Linked DNA regions of Homo sapiens: regions 1, 2 and 4 are each linked to region 3. The links come from fine-mapping of genetic effects on gene expression. A gene starts in region 3. Each other region holds a variant in brackets. All regions are shown on one strand. Distances are from middle to middle.

Region 1 (2,698 bases), 190 kb before region 3:
GATTTCCAGAAAAGTGCTGAACACTGAGCAGCAGGACTGGGGGGTGGGGGACATTGCCTTGCAGATTTTACATTATAACCCTTGTGGGACACTACGTAATTTTTAACTTGTACATGTATTCCCTCCCCAGGCTCTGCGGATGGCCACGGGATCTGTGTGGCTCCTGAGTCTTTCCAGTTCTCACCCCCAGCTGTTATACATCCTAGCTCCTCCACTGGGCTTCCCTTTAGCTGTCACTGACCCTTCCTCCCGCTAGTAACCCCACTCAGCACTCTCACAGCACCTCACCCATCCCCCATTACCACTCCCCATTATATTGAATTCATACTAGTCCACCTGCTGGAGGAAGCTTATGTGTCAAATGGAAACAAGCAGTGGCAAGCCAACCAGAGCCAGCAAAGGCAAGCACCAATGAGACGCAGTGGGTCATCCAATGGACATCCTAGGAGAGAACCTCCCCCTCTTTCCAGGCCTCAAAGCTGAGGAGATATGAGGGATAGAGCTGCTGCAGCTATTCTGTGACTCTGAGGTTAGGGCTTGAGGTAGGAGCCAATGTAGAAGAGAGTAGGAAAAAGGAAAGAGAGCCATGCCATGTCCTAGTGGTATCACTGTTGCTAACTACTGTTCCCCTTCACTGTGGCCTCTGTGAGATTTCCGGTCCTAATGACAACAGTTTCCCCAAAGCAGTGGTTTTCAGCACTGGGCTACCCATAATAATTACGAGGGATACATCAATGATAGACTGGATAAAGAAAATGTGGTACATATACACCATGGAATACTATACAGCCATAAAAAGGAATGAGATCACATCCTTTGCAGGGACATGGATGAAGCTGGAAGCCATCATCCTCAACAAACTAACACAGGAACAGAAAACCAAACACTGCATGTTCTCACTCATACGTAGGAGCTGAACAATGAGAACACATGGATACAGGGAGGGGAACAACACACACCTGGGCCTGTTGGGGGGTGAGGTGAGGGGAGGGAAAGCATTAGGACAAATGGCTGATGCATGCGGGGCTTAATACCTAGGTGACGGGATGATAAGTGCAGCAAACCACCATGGCACATGTTTACCTATGTAACAAACCTGCACATGTGTCCCGGAACTTAAAGTAAAATAAAATTTTTAAAAAGTCTTCATATTTACAACCAGAAAACAAAAATTACCCAGGATACCTAAAAAACAAAAACAGAACAAAACAAAACAAACAAACAAAAAACACCAACCAGACCTGGTCCCATCCCCCAGAGATTCTGATTCACTTGATCTGGGATGGAGCAGCCTGGAAGGATGGGGAAAAGAGAAGGGAAAGAACAAGAAGAGAAAAACAGCATTTCAGCCAGAGCTTCTCATTTATTTGTATTTAAAAATAAAAATAAAACCATTTTGGACTGAGCCCCTGGGTCAGTCCCCACTGACCACGGTCTGCATGCAGTGCCAGACTGGAAGGCGTGAAGAAAGGAGAGGTTCCCTTTGGCCTTGCAATGGTGCTTCATGAACCCCCAGCACCATC[C/T]GTGTCCTAAAAGAAGAAGCAAACACCAAAGGGCCAGCCAATGGAAAAGTCTGGCCAGGTGAGTGTGTGGGAAGTTTGTAACCTGCAGAGGAGTCCAAGGACCGCCCCCCAAAAAGGGGTCTGCAAAGTCCCTAAACCCAGGTGAGGTGATGCTGGTGGCTCTCCATGCTCAGAGGCCTTGTTCTCCTGTCTGGAAGAGCTCAATTCCCAGCCCAAGGTGGAGGCTGTGCTCAGCTCAGCCCTGACCCAGGCTCACCCAGGCTTGAGGGTGACTGTGGCTCTCACAGCAGGTACTCCTCATGCAGGAAACACTGCTGGAATGGAATTGCTGAGCCAAGCAGGGAGGAAGTCAGAGAGGTCATAAGAGCAAACCAATGCAGATAGCAATGGATTACTATTCATTTTATTATTTTTTAATTTTTCGAGATAGAGTCTTGCTCTGTCATCCAGGCTGGAGTGCAGTGGTGCAATCACAGCACACTGCAGCCTCGACCTCCTGGGCTCAAGCCATCCTCCCACCTCCGCTTCCCAAGTTGCTGGGACTACAGGCACATGCCACCACACCTGGCTAATTTTTTTACTTTATTTTTGCAGAGATGAGATCTCACCATGAATTTTATGATTTTGACAGCTGACAACATTTATGCACAGAAACAACCTTCCAGGTAGGAACTGTATTTTTATTATTGACATTTTGCAGGAAAGGAAACTGAGGCTCAGAGAGGTAGAGTGACTTGCCCAAGGTCACACTGCTTGTCAGTGGCGTTGGTTAGAATGAGGACTGCGGTGCCCTGACCCTGACTCCACGGCTGCAGTCTCCTTTGCTGTTGCATATTCAGCCACTCCCGTTGCCCTGTGTCGCAAACCCCCAAGCAGAGGACAGCTGTGCTCTCTCTGGGCTGCAAGTGATCAGCGTCCCCAGACGCCTTAGGCTCTGGCTGCAAGACCAGGGGCCAGTCACCTCGCCCCACCCCGGCCAGCCCTCCCAGGGACCTGGAGCAGGTCACCCACCTGGCCGTCGTTCATGGAAGGTGGGGCTGTGCAGGAAGCTGCGAGCAGTGGCAACCCTGCCCTCACTTTCATTCTCCTGCAAGCCTCTTGACCCACCCGCCCCTACCCTAAGCCATTTTAGCCACCTCCTAGATGAAGCACACAGTCTCTGGCTTTGGGAAGAA
Region 2 (2,698 bases), 470 kb after region 3:
GCTTGAACTCAGGAAGCGGAGGTTGCAATGAGCTGAGATCATGCCACTGCACTCCAGCCTGGGCAACAGAGCAAGACTCCTTCTCGAAAAAAAAAAAAAAAAAGAAATCTCGAAGCATATAAGAATAGAAGAATGAGATTTAACAGGCTCTCTGGAAGCAACTTTGTGCACCTTCTGGAAACAATAGAAGACATGTACCGGTACCTACTTAAACCTCAGAGTGCAATTCACATGGTGGCAGAGATCCCCAAAGCACAACCCTGATTCTTTCTCCATCCTGAAAACACTGCCCCACACCTTCTAAGACAGTAACGGATTTAGATAGAAATGACTGTCCATTTGGGTTTTAACTTAGCACAGCCCTAGCCAGTGAAGAAAAGACAAAAGAACAAGGCAGAAGAATATTGTGGCCTTGGAAGAAATTCCTGACACTGGTCTCTGACCATCATTTTATGACATGTGTACCTGTTTCAATCTTCATCTTCCTCTCAGCCTATTAAGTCATGCAGCGAGCTCCTACCTCTCACTTCCTTCTATCCCCGACCAAGCTTAAATCAGCCTCAGAGGCTGGAGATAAACCAGGCTCAGAGGAGGGGCCTGGTGGTTTCTCAGTCAATTTGCATTCCAAGCTCAAATTTTCATTTCTAAACCTACAATTTCATTTCCAGGCTTTCCCTTGGTTCCAGAGCTGGCTGCTGCTTAGGCGAGAGTGGGAGGGGGGGGCCTCAGTCAGAAATCTCAAGCAACTGGACCAGAGGTAGAATGCCTCAGGCCATTTTTCAATGCCAGTCCCCATTGTTATGGGTCCCACATCGACCTGGTGCTCTTGTTTAACCCCTTTTGCATCTGTAAAAATCATTTTCATTATCCCTTAGTCCCAGTGGAGAAACAGGCAAAGGATAGGTTCAGACTGTTCGCAGAAGAGAATTCCAAATGTCTCTGAACACATGAAAAGATGCTCAACAGGGGCGAAGTGCAGTGGCTCACGCCTGTAATCCCAGCACTTTGGGAGGCCGAGGTGGGCGGATCACGAGGTCAGGAGTTCAAGACCAGTCTGGCCAACATGGTGAAACCCCGTCTCTGGTAAAAATACAAAAATGAGCCAGGAGTGGTGGTGGGTGCCTGTAATCCCAGCTACTTGGGAGGC[C/T]GAGGCAGGAGAATCGCTTGAAACCACAAGGCGGAGGTTACAGTGAGCCGAGATCGCACTGTACTCCAGCCTGGGCAACAAGAGTAAAACTCTGTCTCAAAAAAAAAAAAAAGAAAAAAAAGAAAAGATGCTCAATTACACTCATCATAATAGAAATTCAAATTAAAAGCATAAGGGGAATATATCAGATTGGCAAAGATCAGAACATTAGCTAACACGGTCCGGTAAGATCATGGGGCCTCTTTCCAGCCAGCGCCGAGTGATGGGCATCTCTCAGGACAACTGGCACAAGCGCCGCAAGACTGGCAGCAAGAGAAAGCCCTACGACAAGAAGCGGAAGTATGAGTTGGGGCACCTGGCTGCCAACACCAAGATTGGCCCCCACCACATCCACACAGTCCGTGTGCGGGGAGGTAACAATAAATACGGTGCCCTGAGGCGGGACATGGGGAATTTCTCCTGGGGTTCAGAGTGTTGTACTCGCAAAACAAGGATCACTGATGTTGTCTACGATGCGCCCAATAGCAAGCTGGTCCGTACCAAGACCCTGGTGGAGAACTGCTTCGTGCTCACTGACAGCACACCGTACCACCAGTGGTATGAGTCCCACTATGCGCTGCCCCTGGGCTGCAAGAAGGGAGCCAAACTGACTCCTGAGGAAGAAAAGACTTTAAACAAAAAACGATCTAAAAAAATTCAGAAGAAATACGATGAAAGGGAAAAGAATGCCAAAATCAGCCGTCTCCTGGGGGAGCAGTTCCAGCAGGGCAAGCTTCTTGCATGCGTCGCTTCAAGGCTGGGACAGTGTGGCCAAGCCCATGTCTATGTGCCAGGGGGCAAGGAGATGGAGTTCTATCTTAGGAAAATCAAGGCCCGGAAAGGCAAATAAATCCTCATCCTTTCTGTCTTTGCCCATGGAATAAAGGTGTCTATTGTTCTGTGGCAAAAAAAAAAAAAAAAAAAAAAAAAGTCATGGGGAACGTGCACTCTGAACGCTACTGGTGCGAGGCTGACCTTCCCTGACCTCCTTGGAGACAAATTTGGCAAAATAACTTAAATTTTAAAACGCATTGGCCTGATGATGGAGCACTTCCACTTCCAGGTATTGATAGACCTACTCGTACTTTCTTGCAAAATGACCTGTGCACAAGAAAATACACTGAAGGCCAGGCACGGTGGCTCATGCCTGTAGTCCCAGCACTTTGGGAGGCTGAGGCAGGTGGATCATTTGAGGTCAGGAGTTTGAGACCAGCCTGGCCAATGGTGAAATCCCATCTCTACTAAAAATACAAAAAAATAAGCCAGGCATGGTGGTGCACGCCTGTAATCCCAGCTACTTGGGAGGCTGAGGCAGGAGAATCACTTGAACCCAGGAGGTGGAGGTTGCAGTGAGCCGAGATCATGCCATGCACTCCAGCCTGGGTAACAGAGTGAGACCCTGTCTGTCTGTCTCTGTCTCAATCTCTCTCTCTCTTTCTGTCTCTCTCTCTCTCTCTCTCTCTCTCTATATATATATATACATATATACACACACACACACACACACAATGC
Region 3 (2,641 bases):
TCCTGGGATCCTCCCAACCTCTCCAGGTTCTCCAGGTGAGGAAGCTGAGGCTTAGAGGGACTCCTGAATGTACTCAAGGCAACACAGCCAGGAAATGATTCAGAAGTCTGTGCCCTTAACCTCTCAGTATCAAATTGCCCTTGAGGGTTAAAATCCCAGACTTTGGGGGTTCAAATGGTCTTACGTTCATATCTCACATACGACCTCGAAGCAATGGCCTAGAATATCTCAAGAGTCTGTGGCCTCACTCTCTGCTTGCTATAAGGCTTCACTCCAGTGACAAAGGATGGACGCCCCATTAAGGGCTCAATGGTGCAGCTGGGGTCACACTGGGGAAAAAGAGGTTTGCTCCAGCAAACTCTAAACTTTGTAGTGGTTCTGGCTTTAAGCCTTGGCTCTGCTGGAGCAACCTGAGCTCACCGCCCCTTCTCAATTTCCCCACCTAAAAAAAAAACAGGGCTGGACCCCACTTTAGGAGAGGCCTCAAAGAGAACCCCCTAAAGCCCTGCTCTCCAATTCGCCACATGCGGCTGAACCCAGATGTGCTGTGAAGGTAACAGACGCCGGATTTGGAACACTCTGTACCAAAAAAGCGAGTAAAATATCTCAGCAATGTTTTTTACTGATTACATGTTGAAATGTTAATATTTTGCACCTGCTAGGCTAAATGTACTGTATTGTTAAAAATTTCAGCTGTTTTTATCTTGTTTAATGTGGCTACTAGAAAATGTTTAATTACCTGTAAGGCTCACATCATATTTCTATTGGACGGTGCTGCCCTAGACGCTGCAGGGAGATAAGTCCTGCTTATGTCCTGCCCAAGGGTGGCTTCCCAAAGCCTCGGGGGTCTCACCGAAAGTGGCTGAGCTTACCAAGGTGCGAGAGCCTGTTTCTCCCCAATCTGCTGCTCAGCCACAGCTCAGGCAGTAGGGAGCAGCCACCTGCGCGGACTGGGCCCCTCCGAGAGGGCAATCTGGAGGGTGACGTTGTGGTCGTGGGCATCTGGCAGCTTCGATTTCCCCTGCGTCCCCTGCCGCGCCCTAAGGGGTGAAGGCCGGTGGTGCGCGTTCCCGGCACAACTCCGAGAGGAGGAAACGGAGACAGGGGGCGCCCACGTGGCCTGGCCAAGGTCACCCGGGTCAGCCCGACTCCACGCGGCCCGGCCCGCCCCCTCCCTGCCCCTAGTCGCGCCGGGCCCGGGCCGTACTTGGCGCTCGGTGATCCAGAAGCGCACGTTGGGCTCAATGAAGGCGGGGACGGCGTCTCTGCGTCCTAGGAGCCGCCCAGGTTGCGTTTCCTCCTCCTGTTCCAGGGACATTTTGCGCTGGTTAGAGTGGCCGCCGCCGCCAGGCCGCGCGTGGAGGAGGAGCCGGGCGGCGAGCCCCGCCCCGGGCCGCGCGCACCCGCAGTTCCCGCCCCAGGCCCGCGCGCCCGACGTCCCGTGTCACAGCGCCTCGGGGCCCTTGCGCGCCCACTGTTCCGGCGAGCGCAGCTCTCCCACGGGCCACGTCCTCCCAACCCTGCTTGCCCTGCTCCGCACCTTTGGGGAGCCGGGCCGTCTCCAGGCCCCAAGGGGTCACTATCGGAACCCGTCATCACAGTACCTAATGCGAAGACCCGGAAAGGTTGTGAGTGAGGCCGTCCGCAACCTCACCCTGCGCTTCTGCCGCGCCCTACCCCTGGTCATTACCCTCGAAAATCCCTCCGATGGCCCACGAATTCCAGTGTGCATGGTGTTGCGCAGTCAGGCCGGCTGCATCATGGTCTCAGCCCAGGGAAAATGTCAAATGCGGTGCCCCTTATTCATGTTACTGAGAATTTCAAGAGAGTAACACCAGAGCATCAAACCAAGTATAGGGCCCTGGGCACAGTGCACTATCCCTCAGCCCAACAGGTTGTTTTTTTTTTTCTTCCAGTGTTGGGGCAAATCCAGTTCCTTTTGTTGACTACCAAATAGGTACCATTTGTAAAGAAAAACCTGCCTTCCCTTCCTCCTCCCACCTGCCCTTCCCCAGCACAGGGCCAGGCGGGGGCTGTGTGCACTTAAATTCACGGAAGCCACAAGTGTGCCTAGGTCGTTCAGGGGGCCTCCGGAGTCCAGGACTGGGGGACCCAGCACATCATCTAGTTGTGTGACCCTCGCCAAGTCAGTATCTCGAAGTCTATTTTCCCATCCGCAAAATGAGGATAACAATTGTACCTATCTCAGGGTTTTGTTTCTGATCAAAGGAGATAAAACATCCCTAACACAGCACTGAGCCCTCAGAAGTGCTCAGTATTGGCCATTAACCTCCAGCGGGCCAATTCCTTCCCTTGCCCTGCGCCTCCAGGAACAGGAAATTGGCTCATGGCGTCCTTCAGGCCTGTATGACTCTGCTTCTGTATTTGCTCAGTTTGCCTAGCTCACTTTTCTTAACCTCCAGGGGTTTATCTCCTCTTCCAGGAAGCCTTCCCTGACCCTCCGAGTTGAGTAAGGTGCCCCCTCCACTTCTACCCTTATGCCGCAGAAATCCATCTAAGCACCAGTGCAGTATGTAGCGTGCTGTTCTATTCTGTTGTCTCTACCCTCCAGGATGTCACAAAGCCAGCCCGCTGGCCTGCTTCCCCACTTTGGACTGCTATGTCGTCTTAACAAAGGAGC
Region 4 (2,698 bases), 130 kb after region 3:
CAACAGAAAAAGTCCATACATATTCAGTACAGATACAGTTTTTTTTTTTTTCTGAATGTTTTCAATCCATGGTTGATTAAATCCACAAATGCAGAGCCCGTGGATATGGGAGGCCAACTGCGTGTTGACTTTATGTTTTACAAAGCACCCTCTAATCATTGAATACTGGGAAACTTCAAGCTCTGGGCCAGGCACTGCACTCAGCATTTGGTGGCTTCATCTCCTGTCATATTCTGGAGCCGTATGAACAAGAATTTTCCCATCTTATAAATAAAAGAGCGAAGACCTGAAGAAGTTATGTATAAGCTGTTGTTTAAGGTTATGCAGCCAGGAAGTGGCTTACTCTCTTTGAATCTTACCCCATTCTTGTGAAACAGGTGGAGGACATATTTTTATCTCCCATTTAACAGACAAGAGACTTGAGGTGGCTGGATGCCGTGGCTCACACCTGTGATTCCAGCACTTTGGGAGGCTGAGGTGGGTGGATCACTTGAGGTCAGGAGTTTGAGACCAGTGGGTGCTTTTCTCTGGCGACGCCCAGTCTGTTTCATTAGCTAACAGATGCTAAGCTCTACCATGGGATAGTTGTAAAACCTTGAATGCAAAGCTTGAATACAATTGAGGAGCAGAGATGGGGTATACAGCAAGCACTCTGTGTATTAAGTGATTGTTGTTCCTCGTCTGTCTTTTGACCTCCCAGTGCACAGCCATGGGTCTGTCACTCTGGTGACCTTTGGCCGTGGGCATTGGGAGGATAGTTTATGTTGACTGCGGATTGCCAGGTACCAAGTATCAGGCAAATTGGCTTCTTTGTACATTCCTCCTTCCGGATAGACCTTGGGCCTCCTCGTCACTGCCCAGGAGATTTGCTGGGAATCTAGGAGGGAGTGGATGATGGCCTGGATGCCTGGGTGGTGCTGCCTCTGCCCCGAGGCAGCAGTCAGTGCCAGGGTGGGGCTGGGTGGGTGCTGCCATCGCCTCGGGGTGGTACCCGAGTCTGGAGTAGGAACAATACTCTATTGTTACGTTAAACCTGAAATAGACGCCTTCAGATGGAGGGGGTGAGTATGAATCTATTACGATCTAATAATGACAAGAGCACTCTGTGTCTTTTCAGATGCTTGACAATCACCTGCTAATCCCGGGGGTCTGGGAGCTGAGCATTTTCAACCTCCACCCCCACCTCTGCTTTGTGGAGTTGGGGAAAAACAGAGACCCAGGAGCTGTGAAATGAGGGAGGCTCAGCTTCTCCACTTACTTTCATGGTGTGAGGAGACGCATGTGTATTTGCCTCTGACCCCTCCTGCAGGGAG[G/C]AAAGCGTACCTGGATCTGGGTGAGAGGCATGTGTGGTGATGAGAACATTTCACAGACCCAAGTTCAAATCTCTGCTCTGCCACTCGAGCATATTTCAGAACCTGTCCTAGTCTCAATTTCTTGGTAAGGTGAGACTATAACCACTTTTAATGGGTCCACAAGGCCTGATCCAACCCAGCAGGTGCTCTTGCGGGTGAGGACCACATCTCGGTTGGTTAGACGTGTCCCCCCAGCCCTCTGCCAGGACCTAGGAGTTGGGGTGAGGGGCTGGGTTGCAGGGAAATGTTGAATCCCAAAAGCAGATTTCCCAGGCAGGCACTGTCCTGACCCAACCTGCCGCCAGCCACCTGTCAAGCTGGACCTCTGGGCTTTTCTCTCCAAATGCTCTTGTTCTCAGGAAAGGGCCAAGACTCACCCCAGGCACAAGATAAGTAGGAATCAGGTGTGAGCCAGTGGTCAGGAGATTTGGGTCTAGACTCTGTGTGGCCAGGGTCATTGCTCAGGTTCGCAGGGCTAAGGAGGAGGGAGGCAGGGGGAGACATATAATTTCTAGAACTTCTGAGGTTCTAGGACAGGGGCCAGCAAACTGTGACCCTTAGGCCAGTTCTATTTTTACAAATAAAGTTCTTTAGTTCTTTTGGAACAGAGCCATGCCTATTTTTTACATATTGCCTATGGCTGTTTTGCTCTCCAATGGCAGAACAGGGTAGTCTTGACAGAGACCATGTGGTCTGCAAAGACAAAGCCTCTTTATAGAAAAAGTCTGGGCAGGGCATGGTGGCTGGCTGGGTGCAGTGGCTCAGGCCTGTAATCCCAGCACTTTGGGAGGCTGAGGTGGGTGGATCATGAGGTCAGGAGATCGAGACCATCCTGGCTAACATGGTGAAACTCTGTCTCTACTAAAAATACAAAAAATTAGCCGGGCGTGGTGGCATGCACCTGTAGTCCCAGCTACTCAGGAGGCTGAGGCAGGAGAATCGCTTGAACCTGGGAGGCGGAGGTTGCAGTGAGCCGAGATCGCACCACCGCACTCCAGCCTGGGCGACAGAGCGAGACTCAGTCTCAAAAAAAAAAAAAAAAAAAAAAAAGTCAACCAGTCCCTCCATCAGATCACAGGCATCTTAAGGGCAGAGAACATATCCTGTTTGTGGGGCCCTAGACTCAACACTGGTCAGGACACAGTTGGCGCTCAATAGATATTAGCTGAATAAATAAGTGGAAAACCCATCAGGCATTGCTGGTGGGAATGTAAACTAGTACAGCCACTATGGAAAACCATGTGGAGGTCCATTAAAGAAGTAAAAGTAGAACTACCATTTGATCCAGCAATCCCACTCCTGGGTATCTACCCAGAGGAAAATAAGTCATTATATGGAAAAGATAG

Alleles and levels. Alleles are on the strand shown, and positions count from the first base shown. SD is a standard deviation of normalised expression in the study named. Not every link is listed here.
For the expression in skeletal muscle of the gene that starts at base 1,385 in region 3, allele T in region 2 goes with a lower level than allele C (moderate effect, 0.56 SD a copy in GTEx).

The links.
Region 1: its variant is fine-mapped to the expression of SFXN4 in ovary (GTEx, PIP 0.99).
Region 2: its variant is fine-mapped to the expression of SFXN4 in skeletal muscle (GTEx, PIP 0.96).
Region 4: its variant is fine-mapped to the expression of SFXN4 in spleen (GTEx, PIP above 0.99).

The regions. Positions count from the first base shown.
Region 1 is chr10:118,975,601-118,978,298 of GRCh38, forward strand. The region is part of intron 2 of LINC03036 (long intergenic non-protein coding RNA 3036); the gene reads right to left. Among named protein-coding and RNA genes, the nearest start is that of LINC03036, 53 kb to the right of the region's middle. The variant C/T (reference allele first, on the strand shown) is at 1,524.
Region 2 is chr10:119,637,047-119,639,744 of GRCh38, forward strand. It overlaps the pseudogene RPS8P4. Among named protein-coding and RNA genes, the nearest start is that of BAG3, 13 kb to the right of the region's middle. RefSeq lists a silencer at 1-81. The variant C/T (reference allele first, on the strand shown) is at 1,148.
Region 3 is chr10:119,164,330-119,166,970 of GRCh38, forward strand. SFXN4 (sideroflexin 4) reads right to left here and starts at 1,385. Exons shown (of 14, transcript NM_213649.2): 1 at 1,208-1,385. The coding sequence starts at 1,318. RefSeq lists silencers at 836-1,022, 1,064-1,533.
Region 4 is chr10:119,292,812-119,295,509 of GRCh38, forward strand. The region is part of intron 1 of GRK5 (G protein-coupled receptor kinase 5); the gene reads left to right. Among named protein-coding and RNA genes, the nearest start is that of GRK5-AS1, 45 kb to the right of the region's middle. The variant G/C (reference allele first, on the strand shown) is at 1,314.